Regions from separate parts of the Homo sapiens genome. Here region 2 is linked to region 1. A link means that fine-mapping ties the variant in region 1 to the expression of a gene that starts in the linked region. Tissue or cell type: whole blood. Region 1 holds a variant in brackets; the other region holds the start of a gene. All regions are shown on one strand. Distances are between the middles of the regions.

The links. PIP is the estimated chance that this variant, and not a neighbour inherited with it, causes the effect.
Region 2: it holds the start of RAB2A, and the variant in region 1 is fine-mapped to the expression of RAB2A in whole blood (INTERVAL, PIP above 0.99).

Annotation. Positions count from the first base shown.
Region 1 is chr8:60,601,866-60,612,634 of GRCh38, reverse strand. All of the region lies in intron 6 of RAB2A (RAB2A, member RAS oncogene family), which reads right to left. Among named protein-coding and RNA genes, the nearest start is that of CHD7, 71 kb to the left of the region's middle. The variant AT/T (reference allele first, on the strand shown) is at 5,613.
Region 2 is chr8:60,511,679-60,522,447 of GRCh38, reverse strand. RAB2A (RAB2A, member RAS oncogene family) reads right to left here and starts at 5,461. Exons shown (of 8, transcript NM_002865.3): 1 at 5,195-5,461. The coding sequence starts at 5,240. LOC124901949 (a long non-coding RNA gene) reads right to left here. Exons shown (of 3, transcript XR_007060922.1): 3 at 5,650-8,756. RefSeq lists enhancers at 4,028-4,217, 5,453-6,313 and a silencer at 5,008-5,877.

The DNA.
Region 1 (10,769 bases):
TAGAATCTAATAGTCTTCTCACTACATATATCTTTCCTTTATTAGGATCAGCTATCTTTAATACAAGTCAAAGGAATTTTCATTTGTTTTATGTTGCAGTTAAAAATGAACATAAAAAGCATATACTTCCTACATCCTTTAAAACCCTTTTAGCTAGAAATTATATTGGATTTCTAGGATTATTTTTGGAAGTATATAAAATTTGTATTATTTACATCTTTTGTCTCTTTCCTACCCTTTACAAAAATTAGTATCACCAGTATCAATGCTAATTAAAGGAAAGTAGGGAGCCTAAACACATCTTAATTTTAGCAGGAAACTGAAGAGGGGAAGAAACTAGAACTATTTGATTAGAAAGGTTTGGGGAATATGGCATTTAAGAATTTCCTGTTCCTAGAAAACCAAACACTGCATATTCTCACTCATAAGTGGGAGTTGAACAATAAGAACACATGGACACAGGGAGGGGAACATCACACACTGGGACCTGTAGGGAGGTTGGGGAAAAGGGGAGGGAGAGCATTAGGACAAATACCTAATGCATGTGGGGCTTAAAACCTAGATGACAGGTTGATAGGTGCAGCAAACCACTATGGCACATGTATACCTATGGAACAAACCTGTATGTTCAGCACATGTATCCCAGAACTTAAAAAAAAATAGTTGTTTATTTTAGGGTTTGTTGCTGCAGCATAACATAGCAACAGCTGCGCAATGCAGATTAATAATTGGTTTTCTATGTAAACTTAATAGTTTTAAAAATCATAAATATTGCAGCATTTTACTCTTCAGTACTGAGTATACTGAACCAATGACTGACGTTTTGTAATTCAAGTGGATTTAAACTTAGCTCATAAAGAAAAATTTTACTCCAAGTTATTCTTAGAATGCTTATTTATATTCAAAAGTAAATATTAAAATGTTTTCAATTAAAAAAAGAATTTCCTGTTCCTACTTTCTGTCAGAGGTAACACAAAAATGTTTAATTCCTTAGCAATTTAGTTCTTCCATTTAATAAGCATTTCCTGAGTGCTTGATTTGTACCAGGCACTGAGGACACTCAGATAAATATGAATACCTTACATCTCAAGGATGTGGTATATAGGATAGATATGCATCCAATATGCGAACATAGAAGAAAAACCTTCAGTTGCTTAGATGAATAAGGTAGCATGACCACTTCTGAGAGAGAAAAGCCCTGCAAGTGAAGGCCTGAAAGACAGGTAAGCTCCCACTCATATATTAGGAAAACTGAGGGGAAGAAGGGCATTCTGGACAGAGGAGCAGATTTTAAGTTCAATTCTGTTGGAAGCTGAGGACGGCCAGGAACGTGAGATAAAGTTAGAGATGTGGCCCTATAGGCAGAGGAACCCTGAAAAGGTAGGAAGCAGGGGAGGGACAAAATCAGAGGAGAGTTTAGAGAATGAATCACAAGGGGGCGATACTGGCCACAGGGAGACTGAGGAGTCCAGAGCAATGACCCAAGAAAGAAAGGTCAGATGGTGGCAACGAGAATGAATGGCAAAGCTCAAACCTAATATCTGTTGTGAAGAAATTAACAGGACTTTAAGTGACAGAGTAAAATGGTGATATGTTTATGGATGACTCCGCTTTTGGTTTAAGTGATGAGATAAAAGGGTATACCATGAATTGAGATAAATTAAAAAGGAAGAAAATCAGTTTTCAAGGAAGGAATGAAAAATTTCTTTTAGACACGTGGAATTCTAATACATCGTACAAGTGGGAAACTCTTGGTAGATGGCGATCTATATAATTGTGCACTTATATGGGAATATAAGCTACAGATAAATGTGAGTGTGTAAGTATATGACATGCATTTATTAGCATAATTTTCTTGGGTAATGTTTAGCCACCCTGGTTTAGAAGTACAGAAAATGGATGCAACTTTCAAAGTCAGAGTTTGGATCATCTATGAAGTTCCGGGGATGATGGCCAAATTAGAGGTGAAGAAGCTGATGCTAGTCAGCCAAGTCTACCAAAATGTGGAGGAGAGTGGTAAATATTTATTAAACTAAGCTATCCTCAAGGGATACTGGAAAACTGCTGAGGAAGGCCAGGTCAGATTTCCACTGAAGTCTTGTGGTATGCATCCATGGGCTTAACACTCAGAATAGATTTAAGGGGGAAACAAAGCCTTCAGTTTACAACCTCATTACAGCTACATAAAAATACTCATTCCACCAGTTACAACAAAGCCCAAGACAAGATGGTCCCTCAATGCAAATAAAGTCTACAGACTTTCAAGTACTGAGACAGAATGCAGGTATTAGCAAGGGGACTTGAAACTGGTAGTCTTCCTAGTTACTAATGTCTTAGTAAGTCATGTGTTCTCTCTGGACATAGAAATTCATCTATCCTGTCAGTTTAGGTGGCTTGGTGGGTTACTGCAATCTGTCTTAGGGTTAGCTGGTTGTATTTTCAGCTATAGTCTTGGTGGTATCTAGTACTTCAGTAGCATAAATACTTCAGCAGCATAAGCATAAGGCTTCTGGGAAGGGTGGGGGTTTACCTAGCCTGCCATTATGACATGAACATCTCTCCACCTAAAAAGGCCTTTTCAAACCACAAAGATTCCAGGCAGCTACTGAAGGAAGAAGCACCTGATGAGAGGCCAATTTGCTTGTCTGGATTTTTTTTTTTTTTTTTTTTTTTTGAGACACAGGGTCTCCCTTTGTTGCCCCGGCTGGAGTGCAGTGGCATGATCTCAGCTCACTGAAGCCTTGCCCTCCTGAGCTCAAGTGATCCTCCTACCTCATAGCTGGGAGTACAGCAGGCGTGTCCCACCATGCCTGGCTAATTTTTTATTTTTTTGTAGAGATGAGGTTTTGCCATGCGGGCCAGGCTGGTCTCAAACTCCTGGCCTCAAGTGATCTGCCCACCTTGGCCTCCCTAAGTGTTGGGAGTATAGGTGTGAGCTACCATACCCAGCCTCACCTGGATTTTCTAAAATCTCATGTTTTAAAATGCTTGGGCAAAGATAAGGTTTAGGACAGAATTCTACCTACATGTAACAAATGGGACCAAAGCATAACCAGAATGAAAGACTGAAGGAAGAAGAACATGGTTGAAGCAAATACATACTTACTCATCCAAACTTTTGTTATCTACCATGTGGGGGTTGCAGAAATGAAAAGAGTCTGTGTCTTTAAAGAACTCAATCCTTTTGGTGGGCCGACATGACAAACAAGTGCAATGATATCATACTAAGGTGAATTCATGCCCAGGACAACACAGGAATAAGGAGAAGAAGAAGTCTATCAATTCAGATGTTGTGTGTGGTGGCTGGTGGCAGAAGGAAGACATGCTGGTGTCATGGAACACATTCCAGAGGAGGGATCAGACTTAACCATACCCTTGGAGGATCAAGTCGGAAGGAAGGGCATTTCAAGTGCAGAGAATACTTTTTTGTGGAGAAGGGGAGAGAACACTGTAAAGCTGATCGACTCCTAGTTTACTATGGAGAGCATATGGTGTGAGGGGTTGGCAATCAAAGCATCCTGCATGCCAAGCTAAGGAGTTTGATGCTGAAGCTGTGGGGAACCACTGCATGGTTAATAAAACTGGAGAGAGACATTCAACCTTCATTTTTAGAAAGATCCCAGAGGTCACAGTGTAAGGGACTGAAAAATGAAGACAGGAAGTCCAATTAGGATACAATTATGACAGAAGACAATTTGGAGAGATATTTAATAGGCAGAAACAATAACAGGTGAAAAGTGATACGTATTAACTGAATAAATCAATGTCAAGGGGTAAGAGAAAGAACACTATAGAATAGAGGATCTGTAGACTAGAATAGAGAAGGGCTATCAGTTCAGCTGGATGTGTTAAATCGGAAGGGTGTGAAGATCACTCAGCACAACTGTCTAGGCAGCAGCTGTCAGGGTGGAGCTGAACATACAGCCTAAAATGGTACCTGAAGTAACAGACTTAGGTGATATCTCAAAGTGGAACAAAGAACTGGTAAAAAAAATCTGGGGAAGGCCAGTGAGGTGGGGTGGGGGTAAAGGAAGAGGGAGGGAGGGAGGGAGAGGAGGAGAAGGAGAAGGAGAAGGAGAGAGAGGAGAGAGAGAAGGAGGAGAAGGAGAGGAAGAAGGAGAGGAAGAAGGAGAGGAAGAAGGAGAGGAAGAGGGAGAGGGAGCAGGACCGGGGGCGGGGAGACACAGAGAGAGAGAGAGAAAGAGAAAAAGAAAGAAAACGGTGTCATGGAGCTAAGAAAGAAGTTTACTGAAGAGTAGTCAAAAGTATCAAATATTCCCAAAGGACTGTTTAAGCTAAGAACAGAAAAGCAGAAAAAAAAAGGTATAATTCTTGCTTTTTGGGCGCCTATACAGTCATCATTACTGTTAACATTTTGGTGTATTTTCTTCTAGCCTTTACATATTATGCATGATATGTTTTTATTATTCTTTTACTTATTCTCTATTTTGCAAGCTTTCTTTCATGCAATTACTTTTTTATAATAAACTTTTTCTAAAAGTAAAAATAAATACCAAAACAAACAAACAAACAAAAACCCAGAAAAGTATTTGTTAGTTGTGGCTTTTAGGAAGACCAGGATGACCTTGGCCGTGGTGGAAGAAGTCAGACTATGAAGACAGGTGAGAAAAAGAACAAGGAAATGGAGACAGCTCTTAATAGAAGCCAGAAGGAAAAACATCCAGGAGAAATGGAGTGAAAGGATTTTATAAGATGGTTGAAACTTAATTACATGCTGGGAGCCAAGAATCAATAGAGAAGGAAAGGGTGAATATAATGAGATGGTTTGAAGCAATAACATCTCTGAGGAAATGGGAGGAGACAGCACTCTGCCTGATTGTCCTGTGATAGAACAGACTGGACTCCTCTACAGCCTCTCTATCTCTTCAGAGTGTGACCCCTGGATCAGCAGTATCTACATTAGTTGAGGACTGGTTACAAATGCAAGCTCCCAGGCCACACCACAGATCTACTGAATCAGAATCTGCATTTTAACAGAATTCTTAAGTGTACATTAGTATTTGGGAAGCTCTGGTCAAAAAGACAACTGACTTAGGTAGGCTGGGCATGGTGGCTCATGACATAATCCCAGCACTTCGGGAGGCCGAGGTGGGAGAACTGCTTGAGCCGAAGAGTTTGAGACAAGCCTCGGCAACATAAGAGAGACACTGTCTCTACAAAAACCTTTTTTTTTTTTTTTTTTTTTGAGATGGAGTCTCGCTCTGTCGCCCAGGCTGGAGTGCAGTGGCGCGATCTCGGCTCACTGCAAGCTCCACCTCCCGGGTTCATGCCATTCTCCTGCCTCAGCCTCCTGAGTAACTGGCACTACAGGTGCCTGCCACCACGCCCGGCTAATTTTTTGTATTTTTAGTAGAGACAGGGTTTCACCATGTTAGCCAGGATGGTCTCGATCTCCTGACCTTGTGATCTGCCCGCCTCGGCCTCCCAAAGTGCTGGGATTACAGGTGTGAGCCACTGTGCCCGGCCCAAAAAAATCTTAAAAAAAAAAAAAAAAAAGACAATTGACCCGAAAAAAAGAAAAGTCTTATGAGGCATTCTTAGTTTAGCTTAAAAAAGAAAAAGCAGTCTCCATGCACCCACCACAACATATA[AT/T]AGTGACCATGAAATAAGAGAGTAAGCAAAATAACACAGACATCAGTCCATGGTATGTTAAGAGATGTTACGCATCCCCCGCCAATTCCAATTTTAGGCATTTCAGAGACTTTCCAGGAGCCCAACCCATCACAGGCCTGGAGGCCCTAAGAGGGAAGAACAGTTTTGTAGGTCAGGCCACGGCCCCACCACCTGTGTTGCCTCAGGACACTGCTTGTGTATCTCAGCCACTCCAGCTCTAGCTGCAGCTCAAAAAGGCCCAGGTATAGCTTGGGCAACTGTTAGAAAAATTTGTCGACTTTTACTTAATCCAGATTTTCCAAGTATTACTTGTGTATACAATAAATATCTATGTGGTTGTATATTAGTGTTATTAATGTAGTATATGATAGTACTCTCTCTCTCTATGATCCTGTCTTGAGAAATTCTTCCCGCTAAGTAACACCTAGTTTAGGAAGACTAGGGCATTTTATTCTTATGCTCTTTGGAAATAAACTTCAAAGTGTTGTCTTGGGTGCCATTTTAAATTTAAGATCCTAGTTCAAGATAGGCAGCATAAATTCAGGTAAGAGCAAAACAGTTGGAATATCAGAGGTATAGTTAAAGGATCTGGGTACCAATATCATCTGGACAGATACTAAAATATTTAAGAGTATTCACTGTAGGATTCACAGGTCAGAGACAGCTCCAAAAATAAAAGTGGTGTCACTTCCTAACAGTACTTCCTAGTCTTTACTCCCTCCTTGCTCAGGGTATCACTGAAATGAAGCATTTTATATACATGTATTAGTCCCTTTTGCCTATGAGTCTTTACTCCCTCCCAGCTCAGGGTGTCACTGAAATGAAGCATTTTTGTTTGTTTGTTTGTTTTCTAAGACGGAGTCTCACTCTGTCACCCAGGCTGGAGTGCAGTGGTGCAATTTGAGCTCACTGCAACTTCCGCCTCCCTGATTCAAGTAATTCTCCTGTCTCAGCCTCCTGAGTAGCTGGGACTACAGGCGCAAGCCACCACGCCCGGCTAATTTTTGTATTTTTAGTACAGATGAGGTTTCACCATATTGGTCAAGCTGGTCTCGAACTCCTGACCTCAGGTGATCTGCCCGTCTTGGCCTCCCAAAGTGCTGGGATTATAGGCGTGAGCCACCACCCCCAGCTTGAAATGAAGCATTATATATATATATGTATATATGTATTAGTCCCTTTTGCCTATGAGCCTGTAAAATAAATAGTTAGCTACTTTCAAGATACAATGGGGACACAGGCATTGGGTAAATACTCCCATTCCAAAAACGAAAAATTGGCCAAAAGAAAGGGGCTATAGGTGCCATACAAGTTCAAAACCCAGCAGGGCAGTCATCAAATCTTAAAGCTCCAAAATAATCTTTTGACTCCATGTCCCACGTCCAGGGCACAGGGGTGTGATGGGTGTGCTCCCAAGGCCTTGGGCAGCTCCACCACTGTGGCTTTGCAGGGTTCAGACCCCACCACTGCTCTCACTGGCTGGCACTGAGTGCCTGTGGCTTTTCCAAGTGATGGGTGCAAACTGTTGGTGTATCTACCATTCTGGGGTCTGGAGGACGTGGTCATCTTCTCACAGCTGCACTAGGTGGTGCCCCAGTGGGGACTCTATGTGGAGCACCAAGCCTACATTTTCCCTCTGCACTGCCCTAGAAGAGGTGCTCTGTGAGGGCTCCACCCCTGCAGTAGGCTTCTGCCTGAACATCCAAAGTTTTCCATACATTCTCTGAAATCTAGGCAGAGGTTTCCAAGCCTCAACTCTTGGACTCTGTGCACCCACAGGCTTACCACCACATGGAAGCTACCAAGGCTTGTGGCTAGCACCCTCTGAAACAGTGTCCCGAGCTCTTCCTGGGCCCCTTTGAGCTACAGCTGGAACTAAAGTGGCTGGGATGCAGGGAGTAGTGTCCTGAGGCTGTGCAGGGTGGTGGGGCCCTGACCCTGGCCCTGACCTACAAAACCATTCTTCCTTCCTAGGCCTCTGAGCCTGTGAGGGAGGGGCTCCTGTGAAGTCTCTGAAATGCCTTCCAGGCCTTCTCCCCATTGTCATGGCTATTAGCATTTGGTTCCTTTTTACTTATGCAAATTTCTGCAGCCTGTCTGAATTCCTCTCCTGAAATGGACTTTTCTTTTCTACCACATGGCCAGGCTACAAATTTTTCACCTTTATGCTCTGCTTCCCATTTAAGTCTAAGTTCCAGTTTCAGGTCACTTCTCTGCTCACACATATGAGATAGGCTATTAGAGGCAACCAGGCCACATCTTCAATGCTTTGTCGCTTAGATAATTTTTCCGCCAGATATCTTAAATCATCACCATTCAAGTTCCAAGTTCCACAGGTCCCTAGGGCAGGGGCACAACGCAGCCAGCTTCCTTGCTAAAGCATAACAAAAGTGACCTTTGCTCCAGTCCCCAATAATTTTCTAATCTCCATCTGAGACCTCCTCAGCCTGGGTTTCATTGTCCACATCATTATCAGCATTTTGGTCACAATTCAAGCAGTCTCTAAGAAGTTCCAAATTTTTCCTCATCTTCTGAGCCCTCCACACTCTTCCAACCTCTGCTCATTACCCAGTTCCAAAGTTGTTTCCACATTTTGAGGTATCTTTATAACAAAGCCCCACTCCTCAGTACCAATTTTCTGTATCAGTCCTTTCTCCCGCTGTTATAAAGAAATACCTGAGACTGGGTAATTTATAAAGAAAAGAAGTTTAATTGTATCATGGTTCTGCAGGCTGTACAGGAAGCATGATAGTGGTATCTGCTCAGCTTCTGGGGAGGCCTCAGGAAACTTACAATCATGGCACAAGGCAAAGGGGGAGCGAGGCACTTCACGTGACCACAGCAGGAGAAAGAGAAAGAGGTGGGAGGTACTACATGCTTTTAAACAATCAGATCTCATTAGAACTATCACAAGAACTGCACCAAGCGGTATGGTGTTAAACCACTCATAAGAAACTGCTCCCGTGATCTAATCACCTCCCACCAGGCCCCACCTCCAACAATGGGGATTAGAATTCAATATGAGATTTGGGCAGGGACACAGATCCAAACCCTATCTGTCTGTCTATCAATCAAGCATCTATTTTCTTTCTTCTTTTCTTTTCTTTCTTCTCCTCCCTCTCCCTCTCTTTCTGTCTTTTTAAATAGAGACAGGGTCTTGCTATGTTGGCTAGGCTGGTCTTGAACTCCTGGCGTCAAGTAATCTTCCTGCTTCAGCCTCCCAAAATACCAGGATTACAGGCATAAGCTATGACATTTGCACTCATTTTTAATAATAATATCATAGCACCATCCCTCCTATTACTAAGTGAATAAAGGGGATTCATATATTATGCTGAGTGGGTGCTTCATTTCCTTGAGTTGAACTGTGTTTTATTATTCTAATTCAGTGTTTCTCAATCTCAATACTGCTGACATTTTGGACGAGATAATTCTGTGTTATGAGGAGATATCCTTTGCATTCATTTACCACGTTGCCTCTTTTCCCCCTCAACAGATCCTTCTTGGATGAAATCATAAAGCTGATTAATAGGAAATCTATAGACTAATAGTAAACTTATTTCCAGCAACAACACAGCTAGTGCTGGAACAAAGCTGTTGTTATCTTATGCTGTAAATTATCCAATCCCTTACAGGGAACTGTAACAGTTAAACTTCATGGTGTCCACTTGTATTACAGTAACTGGGTCTTGGTGAACATGTATAAATAGACTACAGCACAACATCAAAAGGAAACAGGTCCAATTCTAAACATCATCAATGTGCCATTTATATTTAATCTTAACAAATAATAATAGTCTAAAAAATCTTTTAAGAGGGTTCCCTGTGCATTAAAATTTCTCTACACATAGGTGCCAAGGATCAGCTGGGTTGTGAATAATTCTCAACAGATTATAAAAAACAGGATGATGACCTTCTCTGAAATGTCCCAACACCAACCACCACTGTCACTAGACAAGTGGGATGTGTCATTAGAATACCTGCCTTATTCTTAACCCATCACATGATCAGCTCTCATAGAAGAGAGTCCTCCAGAGAGCAAGCTGAGGATAGATCCTGTCTGAGCCCACGGTCAGTTTCTACCCACTGTGCTAAACCGCCTCTCCCATAGAGCTCTGCTTATTCTCCTAAGGAACAAAAGGATGGCATAGTTAGGCAAATCTGAGCCCTTGAAAAGCAAAAACATAAGGCATAGCACTTAGAACAAACTTCCCCATAATTACTGTAATTGCTGTTTCTTTCTAAGTCCAAGGGTCAACCTGATCAAGAATCAATGGGCCATGCATGCCTAACATTTACCTCCTTGGATCTAATTCTGCAGGATAATTCTTGCTTAAATCTCTGAGACAGTATATTGTAATTTGTCAGCAGCATAGTTTGGTCTTGGCTCTCCTGCCATAGGAACTGATGGTGAATGCCTATCAAAAGGCAGATACCAAATAAGTGCTGGTTTAGTTCTCCTCCTTCCTACTTCTCTAAGGAGGAAGAAACCCTTTTGTTAGTCTTCCTTGATCCCAAATAAACTAAATACTTGTTTTCCAATATTACTTGTTGAATGAAATAAAAGGGATGACATTAAGACTTTATATTAGATATTAAGGAATTGCTGTTAAGTTATATATGATAATGGTATTGTGTTATATTTTTTAAAATTACTTATATCGAAATATTTATAGGTAAAAATATTTCTGGCATTTGCTCAACAAATGGGATATAAGACTCAAAATGTCTACACGGTGGTAACTTCTAAAACTAGATGATGTCTATAAGGGTTTACTTTTTTAAGTGATAGTACCGATTAAGTTAATTTTTAAGAGCAGGCTGCCCAGGCACAGTGGCTTGAGCCTGTAATCCCAGCACGTTGGGAGGCTAAGGTGGGAGGATATCTTGAACCCAGGAGTCTGAGACCAGCCTGGGCAACATGGCAAGACTTTGCCTCTACAAAAAAAAAAAAATTAGCTGGGCATGGTGGCACACACCTGTCATTCCAGCTACTTGGGAGGCTTAAGCAGGAGGATCACTTGAGCCCAAGAGGTTGAGGCTACAGTTCAAACCACAGTACCCCAGCCTGGGTGACAGAGTGAGACCCTGTCTCAAAAAAACAAAATAAAATGAGGCTTAACACCAGCTCTATC
Region 2 (10,769 bases), 90 kb after region 1:
TAAGCATATAATTCTACTCTCCTCCCCAGAAGTAACGGTTAAGTGTGTAGTCTTGGGACTTTTTTTATTTACACATATATAAAAATCCACAGTTTTTTAACAACATAAATGAAAATACACCTTAGTTCTCCCCCTCACTGACATCTGAATCAAACACTGTGTCAAAGCACTAATGTCTTCCTACCATTTCAACCAATAGTCCCTGACCTCTACTGCACATGACACTGGTAACCACTCCCTCTCTGGGATCTGCCTTCTCTGCAGATTCCATGACACTGTACTGCCCAGGTCTCTCTTGCTCTTTTGATTATTCCTTGTTAGCCTACTATGCTGATAACTTTCCCCATGTGCCCCATGAACACTAGTATTTCCCACCATTACATCCAAGCTTTCATCTGTCAATTCATTCAATGAACAATCACCACCTACTTCATTCCAGGAGGACAACTTTGTCAGATCCCCATTTGTCAATGGTTTTGCATGTGAACCAATGCTCCAAATCACTTGCATCAAAGAAACAAATGCTGCCTTGCCGCGGTGGCTCACACCTGTAATCCCAGCACTTAAGGAGGCCGAGGTGAGTGGACCACCTGAGGTCAGGAGTTCGAGACCCAGTCAGACCAACATGGCAAAACTCCATCTCTACTAAAAATACAAAAATCAGCTGGGCGTGGGGGCAGACGCCTGTAATCCCAGCTACTGGGGAGGCTGAGGCAGGAGAATCGCTTGAACCTAAGAGGTGGAGGTTGCAGTGAACCCAGATGGCGCCACTGCACTCCAGCCTGGGTGACAAGAGCAAAACTCCATCTCAAAAAAAAGAAACAAATGCTTGCAATTTTAGCATGATACATAATTTCACTTTGCAACTAATTTGAACTATATTATGATCAGCAAGCCCCTACGCCAATCAGGAGGATGGGAATTAGAAGTAAGCTTGAGTAGTTAATTTTTTAAGGTGATAACTTATTAATAATTATTTTCATATCATGAGAATTTTTCTTCCCTACATAACCTTGTAATTTCAAAAGCTCAGAAAATGAACTCTCAGGTAATAGGGACTCCATTTTATGTTATTAGCTCCCAAGTCTCTATCCCAGATTACTCTCTCCTGAGCCAGAAATAAACTTTCAACTACATACCAGACATTCCCCCATGCCCACTCTGGCGGTGCCTACTCATCATTCTAATTTCAGCTGAAACATCACCTAGTGCCTCCCCTCAAGGATCCATCCACTTAACTATTAAATAAATCTGACACTCAATGGTGTACCCTGGCATCTAAGACAAAGGCAAAGACCTTCCTAACTAAAAAGATAATTTAAAATGCAAGTGGGGCTGAGAGCTGTGGCTTGTGCTTGTAATCTGGCACTTTGGGAGGCTGAAGTGGGAGGATGGCTTAAGCCCAGGAGTTTGAGACCAGCCTGAGCAACACAGTGAGAGCCCATCTCTACAAAAATTTAAAAATTAGCCAGGCATGGTGGCATGTGCCTGTGTTCCCAGCTACTTGGAAGACTTAGGTGGGAGGATTGCTTAGGCCCAGGAGACTGAAGCTGTAGTGAGTGAGCCGTGATAGTGCCACTGCACTCCTGCCTGGGCAACAGAGATCATGTCTCAATAGATAGATAAATAATATAAGTAAAATAAAATAAAATGGAAGTGGTGGGTATATACATAAGAGTGAAAAATAAAAAATAAAATGTAAGTGGGACTGGGACTGAAGAGAAGGGAAACAGAATGAGGGAAGAGAGGAGGGGACCAGCATAAAATGCAACAGGGAGTGGTAGGATTTGTTAAACTCTCAAAAGAATGGATAAAAAGGAGTTGGCCAGGTGACAAAAATTTTTGACATAACTTTTTTTGATAGGGAAGAACAAGAAGGAGTGCTTCAGATATTAGCAGAAATAAGAACACAACCAAACCTGTGCCTTTGTTTACCTTGCTGAGCGTTGAGCAGCAGGGAGGGTTAGTGATAAGGTTAAAATGGTTGGCAGATGCTAGAATTTCAGAAGAAAAATTACTATAGATTCGTATTTTTTCTCTCCATGCTTGATAATTAACTGCTTATTAAAAACCACTTTCCACTTTACATCTAGATTTAAATGACACATTTTACTAAATGATTCAGAAACAAGACAGGAACAAGGAAAAAATTTAAAGCTACATTTTAACTGCATTTAGTCTTACAGTAAGAAAACAGCTCAATAGTATCATCATGATCATGTAAAAGTTTTTAAAACCTCTTCTATTAAAGAGGGAATTCTGAAAAGGAAAAATGTGCATTGTTCCTTTCCTTTGAGAAATCAAAGTACTTTCACATTTATCCTCATTTTATCCCACATACTGAGAGAAGGTTATAGGTTACGGAAACAGGGAAACAGAAAAATTAGGTGATTTCCTTCATTCTAAGATGCATGTTTTTGACCCTGACTTTTTAAAAAATCAAAGTGGATCTCACATTACTGATTTTAAAGTCATCTTTTCTAGGGGAGGGCCACACTGAGTGTATCTTACAACTATGGGTACACTCTGCATTAAAGAAATATGGTAAAGGATTTTGCCCAAATTAGTAAGCAAGAAGGTGGCAGAACTGGGCAACAACAACAACAACAACGACACCACTTCTGTTAAGTTATTAATATATACAAACAGGAATATAGTAGCCTGTTTGGCTCCTCTCTTATTAGTTAAATATACAGGGCCTACCTTCTACTACGCTCTTCCTGAAAGAAATACAGAGCCATACAAAACATCTTTTCTGACTTCAAGAAGTATATAATAGGTACCTACATAATAGAGGTGCCTATACAAGTATCTATACAACAGAAAAGTCTGGGATCAATATCAGAAGAATGACACAAAGTGAGAAACATAAATTCAGAAACGGAGTAGTCACTTTCAGCCAGGATACTGTGAAAATCTTCACACAATAAGAGCTTAATATATGTTGACTGTGAAGGCATTACGGAAAACTCAGATAAGACTTTGAAGGACTGATGGATCTTCCACAGGGAGAGATTGTGCCGGAAAGCACTCTAAGAATAGAGACTAGCAGTGCCCAGGAAAAAAACACCAAAATCAGTCACTGGGACTCAATGGCAGAAGCAAGGTGGGGAATAGCGGGAAAGAAGGCGAGAAATGTAGATAGGGGCTAAAATATAGAGTTCACTGAAGGTCAAACTAAAAATTGTGAGCAAACAGGAGTAGCCTTTTGACATTCATGCTTCAGGATGACTAAACTGACAGTAAACTACACTGGCTGAACTGGAGTAGGGAGAAGTACTGCTGCAGACTATAACAGTGTCAAGAATTCTGTTCCTGAACTAGGTCGTATCAGCAGCAATGACAAGAAAGAAGTGTCTTCCCTTTGAATTGCGTGGGGACTGCTTTTGGATAAGAGCAAATTCCAAGAGAACAGAGCATTAACTTGTTAGGATTTGTAGCCCCACTACTCCATGCACAATACTTTATTTATCCACAGTACAGCCTCAAATAAAAAACTGAAAAAAGGCAACCAGCAAAGTCTGATTTGAATTTTCACCACTAATGAGATAGCCAAATGCCACAGTCACAAGCTTCTATTTCTCAAACCCACTCATATTACAGTTAATGTGGCATTCCTCTCCAATCTTGTTTTTACAGCCTAAATGAAATTTTGCCAGAAGACTTTAGAATTCTCCTTCTTCCAAATACACCACAGCATTTTTCTTTTAAAGTTTACAAATCCAATTTCCACACACACACACACGCACGCACGCATCAGAAAACCTTGCTGAAAACTCATGTATCTAGCAGAAATTTTTTCTTTCAGGCAGCAATAAATATGCTTTTTTTTTTTTTTTTTTTTTTTTTTTGCAAACTCCACCTTCCGGGCTCAAGTGATCCTCCCGCCTCAGCCTCCCAAGTGGCTGGGATTACAGGCGCCTGCCACGACGCCCGGCTAACTTTTGTACTTTTAGTAGAGACGGGGTTTCACCACGTTGGCCAAGCAGGTCTCGAACTCCTGATCTCAGGTGATCCCCCACCTCGGCCTCCGAAAGTGCTGGGATTACAGGTGTGAGCCACCGCGTCCGGCCAACATGCTTCTTTAGTTACTTATAGAACCTGCCACATCATTAGTTCAACTACAAACTGCTGCTTACATGACCGAAGTTGTGCAAAGGGTCCAAAGTTGTGCAAGAGTAACCACTGAAATCAGACTCTGGTATATTAATAGTTGCAACATCTAAACAATCTTTATGTTTATTATTAGATTCAAAGTAATGCCAAATCACAGGTATTAAAAATATCTACGAAGAGTCTGTTTACTTTTCTGTGAAATATACTAGGACGTCATTTTAAGTGAGAATAACTGAATTTCTTTCAGCTCATGGACATGAGCTCACCTGAAAATTAGCAGTTGTGACACCGGACTTGACATATCTAAAACATCAGCGTCCTCAACATACACATACCTAAGTACACACCCAGAGCACTGAACGACTTTACATTACTATATAACCCCAGTTCACACGTGGCAAAAGTCCACAGAACTCGTTCATGCTTTCCTAACCCCGAAAGGGATTCTCCAGCCGTCAAGTAATGAGATGTGACTTATTCTGACGTGAGAGTTGAAGGTGTTAAAAAAGCATATTTTATATATATGTATATATATAAAATACATATTTTAAAGGTTTCCTTTTCTCTTTCTCGGCTGCCTGTCCCACGCCAAAAAGCGCCTTGCCCAGGCCTTGATAGATGCGTGCTGGTGGAGGAAGGTTGGACTGGTCAGGAACCAAGACCCGGGCCCCAACACCTTCTGCTCCCCTAGGTTTCCCTCCTTCTTTTTCCTGGGGCCGCGAAGAGACCTAACGCAAGGGGCCCTGGGGGTGGGGTGCAGTCATGTGAGTCGGGCCCCGGCGGCCCTGCGCTAGGCCTCCCCTCCTGTCACACACTTCCTGAATCGGGCGTCGCAAACGGCTGCCACGGCCCTCAGCTGCAAGACTGGCCGGGTCGGGGGCCGCAGACCGGGCCTGGCCAGGCCGCGGCCGCTCGCAGTGCCCACGTCACCAGCTCCAGCACTGCGGAAATGGAGCGGCGCGGCCAGGAGGGAGGCGCCGGGTGGAGTCCGCGTCCCCGCCACCGCCAGACGCCGTTTGCCCCTCAGCCCGGGTCCGGAGGCCGCCGACACCCGCCCGGCCGCGCCCGGGGCCCTCACCTGTGTCGCCGATTATGATGTACTTGAAGAGATAGGCGTACGCCATGGCCGCGGCCGCTCAGTGCCAGGGCACACGGCTCCTCCTCCCGCTGCTGCTCCTCCTCCGCGCCCCAACCCCGGTGCCGCTCAGCCTCGAAACGCCAGGCGCCGCCCGCCGCCGCCGCTGCTGCTGTCAGCCGCCGGGAGTGAGGGGCTGTGAGGAAGCCGGACGAACTGACACCCGCAGAGCCGAGGGAGACAGCGCCCGACCGAGCCCAGCCGAACAATAACAGCCGCCGCGGCGCCTCCGCCCCGCCTCCGCGCCGACCCGGAAGTTCTGCGGCCGCCGGCGCCGCCGGAGGAAAGGGGAGGAGCCCCGCACGCTGGCCCAGCCCTGCACGCTGGCCGCGCCCCGCCAGCCGGAGCCCCGCCCCGCCCCGCCCCGCGCCTGCCTTGCCCGGTCCGCCCTGTCTTCCAGCAGGGCGGGGCCCGGCTCCGGTTGTTCCGCCACGTTTGAGCGGGCGAGCCCGGCGGCCGGGAGACGCCAGGGAACGGGGCTGGTGGGGGTACAAAGGCTCGGTTCCGTCGCCTTCAGCCCTGCGGTGGGGGCACGGGGCAAGTGAGGGGACGGCAGAGGCGGCGTTCGGTGTGAGGCTGCGCCCTGGGCTCCTGAAAATGTGTGTGAAAATGTGGGAGGCACACGGCGAGGGGGTGGGGGTGGCCTGGTATTTCTGTGTTTGGCATCGGGGCTTGAAGGTGAAAATGGCAGTATTTATAAATTGGAAACCGTAAATCTGGGACTGCAAAGTAAATCATGGTATGCACGCACAGTGGAGTACTACGTTGCTCTCACCTGAGGTCAGGAGTTCGAGACCAGCCTGGCCAACATGGCGAAACCGCGTCTCTACTAAAAATACATTAGCCGGGCGTGGTGGTGCTCGCCTGTAATCCCAGCTACTCGGAGTCTAAGGCAGGAGAATCACTTGAACCTGGGAGGTGGAGGTTGTAGTGAGCCGAGATTGAACCACGGCACTCCAGACTGGGCGACAGAGCGGGACTCCGTCTCAAAATAATAATAGTAAATAAAAAATAAATAAAGTCTCTGAACCTGTCCTGGTTCTGAGGGCTGCTCTAAAAAAAAAAAAAAAAAAAAAGCCTGACTTAGGTTAAGCAAAACCGAGATGATCTGTTTATGTGTGTGTATATAACATGCACCATATGTAATATATGAATTGTATATAATTTTTATGTGTAACAAATAGTGGGAAAACATTTACATACCCATATATGCATAATCAATCTGAAAGGAAAGCTAACTGGTATTAAGAGAAAGGAGGGAATGGGATTGGGGGGAAAATGTACTTTTCCCTGAATTTTTTTGTGCAGTTTGACATTTTTTGCAGTGTTCATGAGTTACCTATTAGGAAATACTGTTAAAGGAAAAAACAAAATGACTGTGCATTCAAAGAATAGTTATTGAATACTATGTTTCATGTACCGCCAGGCACAGCAACTGGAGGCCCTGTATGTTCTATGTTCTGTTTTTCTACTTTGCTTTTTCAGTCATCCAGCCCAAAATGTCACCACTCTGTTCAAAAAGACCACAGGTTATGGAAGAGGAGGTGGAGAATAGGGTGTCAGGAAAGGTTACTTAGAGATTATGATTTCTGAGCCAGGAATATGAATTATGTATAGAGTTTGTCGAAAGAACAACAGTTTGGGGAGGGGAACCAAAGTTTATGGACAAGGAACAGAATGTGCAAAATTCCTGGATCTGTTCAGGGAATTTGAAGTTGCATAAGGAAGCTAATTGACTAACTCATATCCTCATAACCCATAACCTCATATTGAAGGAGAATCATTGCTGGGGAAAAGCGATTGGGATTTAGTGGCCCTCGTTCCTGTTGCCTAATACTCTTCTCTTTGGGGCCTCTCATTATGTAATTAGTACTGACACCATCATGCTGGGTTGCTAACATGCTTTGGATGGCCTTGCCAAATATGAACTCACAAGGTTTTTCTGGAATATTTGGAGGGGATTTTACTAAAGGGTCAGAGATGGCACGGAAGAATTTGACATGAAAATTTGACATGAAAAGCTACCTGGAATCGCAAAATTTGGTTCATTCACCTTTAGTTTGAGGAAGGGGAGGTCCCTGCCCAAGGCCTCCAGTTTTCAGATGTCATTTTGTCCCTCCCACTTGAGTGCCTTCACCCAAGTCTTCCTTGGTGATGGAGAAACTCAAGTCTTCACTCTCACAAGATAGAGGGATGTGGCCTTCCTTCACCAGCACAACTCTATTAGGATGTTATACAAATGCCTGGCATCCTAGGAGTCAGGAGTATTCCTACACTGTTAGAGGAGGAGAGTACCTGGAGAGGTCTCTTGTGCCAGGTTATGTAGGGCCTTGTATGTTATGTCACCATGCATTTAGAACTTTACTTAGTAGACAAAGGAAATTGTGACAGGAAATGGTCAGAACTGGGTATGTAACAAAAATCATAGAAATGGATATAAAGCTATAGAGGCAATGTGTTATAAGGAAAATAGGATACCTGGCTTCTGGTCTTGGCTCTACCTGTAACTGATCGGATGAATGTGAGGAATCGTTTGGCCTCTTAAAGCTTCAGAGCACAGGTTGCGATGGCTTGTGCCTGCGGTCCCAGCTACTTGGGAGGCTGAAGAGGGAGGATAGCTTGAGCCAAGCAGTTTGAGGCAGCAGTGAGCTAGGATGGTGCGACTGCACTCCAGCTTGGGCTATAGATTGAGACCTTGTGTCTTAATAAATAAAATAATTATTAAAATAAAAATAATTTAAAAAATTATGAGTGGTTCAGTGCACTTGTCTATTAAGTAAAGGAGTTAAGTGTTTCTTAAAAGGGCTATTCCAAGCATGACGTCTTTTAATTTTATGCTTAGCCAGCCTCCAAATCTAAAGCCATCTGTAAAGAAGGTAGTAATCCTCTCGTGAAAATGCAGGGGCCATAGATGTCAAATGCATATTGTTCTGATTGATTGATTGATTGATTGAGAGGAGGTCTTGCTCTGTCATCTAGGCTGGAGTACAGTGACCCAGTCATGGCTTACTGCTGTCTTGACTTCCTGGGCTCAGGTGATTGTCCTGCCTCAGCCTCCTGAGTAGCTGGGATCACAGGCACATGCCACCACGCCTATATCATTTATTATTATTATTATTATTTGGAGAGATGGAGACTCCCTCTGTTACTCAGGCTGGTCTTGAACTACTGGCCTCAAGCAATTCTCCCACCTTGAAGAACAGGATTTTCAAGTTCTTCTCTGGGCTTCAGTTTCCTTATTTGGAATATGTGGATAATAACTGCTTAACAAAGTCCATTTAGGATCAAATGAGATAATGTATGTGAAAATACTGTGTAAATTATGAAAAATGTATACCTAATACATAAAACTCTTTGCACTGCATAATTTTTGGAAATTACTTGAGGGGCTGAGTGCGGTGGCTCATGCATGTAATTCCAACACTTTGGGAGGCAAAGTCTGGAGGATCCCTTGAGCCTTGGAGTTCAAGAAGATCAGCATGGGTTACATGGTGAGATCCTGTCTCTACAGAAAATTAAAAAGAAAAAAAAGAAATTAACTTGAGGAACTAAAGGCCTAATCACTATATAAATTCATGGTTTAAAATTAAGTTTGTTCCTGGCTCTATTTTATGTCTCTACCTTTTTTCCTATGTATGATTCATAATATTTTGTTATATTTTCTATAAACCTATAATCTCTTAAATCTTCGAAAAAATACAGGGTATAAATAAAAATCACATAAACCTCATTTAAAACATTTTCTTTAGCCCATAAAAATCCAAACATATTTTTCAAGAAAAGTCCCCCAGACAAAATAACAGAAATAAACCTCTCTTCCATTAAATATAGTATACTTCCTGGAATTTTCCATTCAGTTTGATTTTCGGCTATTTTCAGTCTCTTAGGATGTGTTGTGGTAACTCTGTCTCTCAGCCTTACATCATATATGGTCTGAAGGTCATAACTGTGAAATTTCAAGATTGTAGCACTACATTCTTCAGTGTCTCCTAATCAAGTTCTCCATGACATTTTTGAGTACAATACTATATTAGAAGTTTGCATTTGCTTCTCCCAACTAAACTTTCATGTTTATATTTTCTTTGGTTTTAATTACTCTCAGGCTTTGGGAAGAGGGATAGGGTGGAGTGGAATGGGAGAAGGTGGTTGGGAATACTGTAATCTTGAGGTTTTTGCCTTGGTTTCCATGGTTCCTTAGCCACTCCTTCTGAAATGGTATGCAAAACTGATAATGATGTATATATTTGCACATGTACACTTTTATGGGAGAGATTCTTCCATGACCCAGAAATAATTAAGAACAATTGTGAAATGCCTTCCTTCAGCCATCTCCAAGTACCATAACAGAACTAATTTTCCAGCAAATACTTAAACTCAGTACCAGTTTGTTTGTTTGTTTGTTTTTTAGAAAAAGTCTCTCTCTGTCACCCAGGCTAGAGTGCAGTGGTGCGATTTCAGCTCACTGCAAGCTCCACCTCCTGAGTTCAAGCGATTCTCATGCCTCAGCCTCCCAAGTAGCTGGGACTGTAGGTGCACACCACCATACCCGACTAATTTTTGTATTTTTAGTAGAGATGGGGTTTTGCCATGTTGACCAGGCTGGTCTCAAACTCCTGGCCTCAAGTGATCCACCTGCCTTGGCCTCCCAAAGTGCTGGGATTACAGGTGTGAACCACCACACCGGAACTCAGTACCAGTTTTGGAAGAAGAAATAATTAGATTCAAATCCTGACTTTACCACTCAACATCAGTTGAGTGATCTTTGATAGATTACTAAATGCTCTAAGCCTTAGTTTCCCCTCTGAGATGACATATATAAAATGTCTAGCACTATGTCAAGCACACAGAGGACACTTCTTAAACATTGAGGTTGTTTCCCCCTTCCTTTCCTCTCCTCCTTGTCCTCCTCCACCTTCAACCTGTTAATAAGAACTGTAGCTGCAAAGGAAATATATCTCTCCCTCTGCCCCAACTCTCACAACTGGCAATAACAAAAAACAAAAAACCACAGGAGGCTGGGCGCAGTGGCTCATGTCTGTAATCCCAGCACCTTGGGAGGTCGGGGCAGGTGGATCACCTGAGGTCAGGAGTTTGAGACCAGCCTAGTCAACATGTCAAAATCCCATCTCTACTAAAAATACAAGAATTAGCTGGGCATGGTGGCACGCACCTGTAGTCCCAGCTACTTGGGAGGCTGAGGCAGAAGAATCACCTGAACTCGGGGGTAGTTGCAGTGAGCTGAGATTGTGCCACTGCACTCCAGCCTGGGCGACAGAATGAGACTCAGTCTCTAAAAACAAACAAACAAAAAAAACCATAGGAGTTAAATGAGCCCAACAAGGACCCTGCCTTAAAGGAGAGTTGTCTTGTGCTAAGTCATAAATAACTTTGGCCTGATGAAGGCTACAGGAGAGGAGCTCTATTATTTTAGAGAGTACAATTTTTTGGGGGTGAAATGAGGGTAGGTTTTGCAGAGGGAGAGTCTTTTAAGCTGGGTCTTCAAGGGCATTATCTTTTA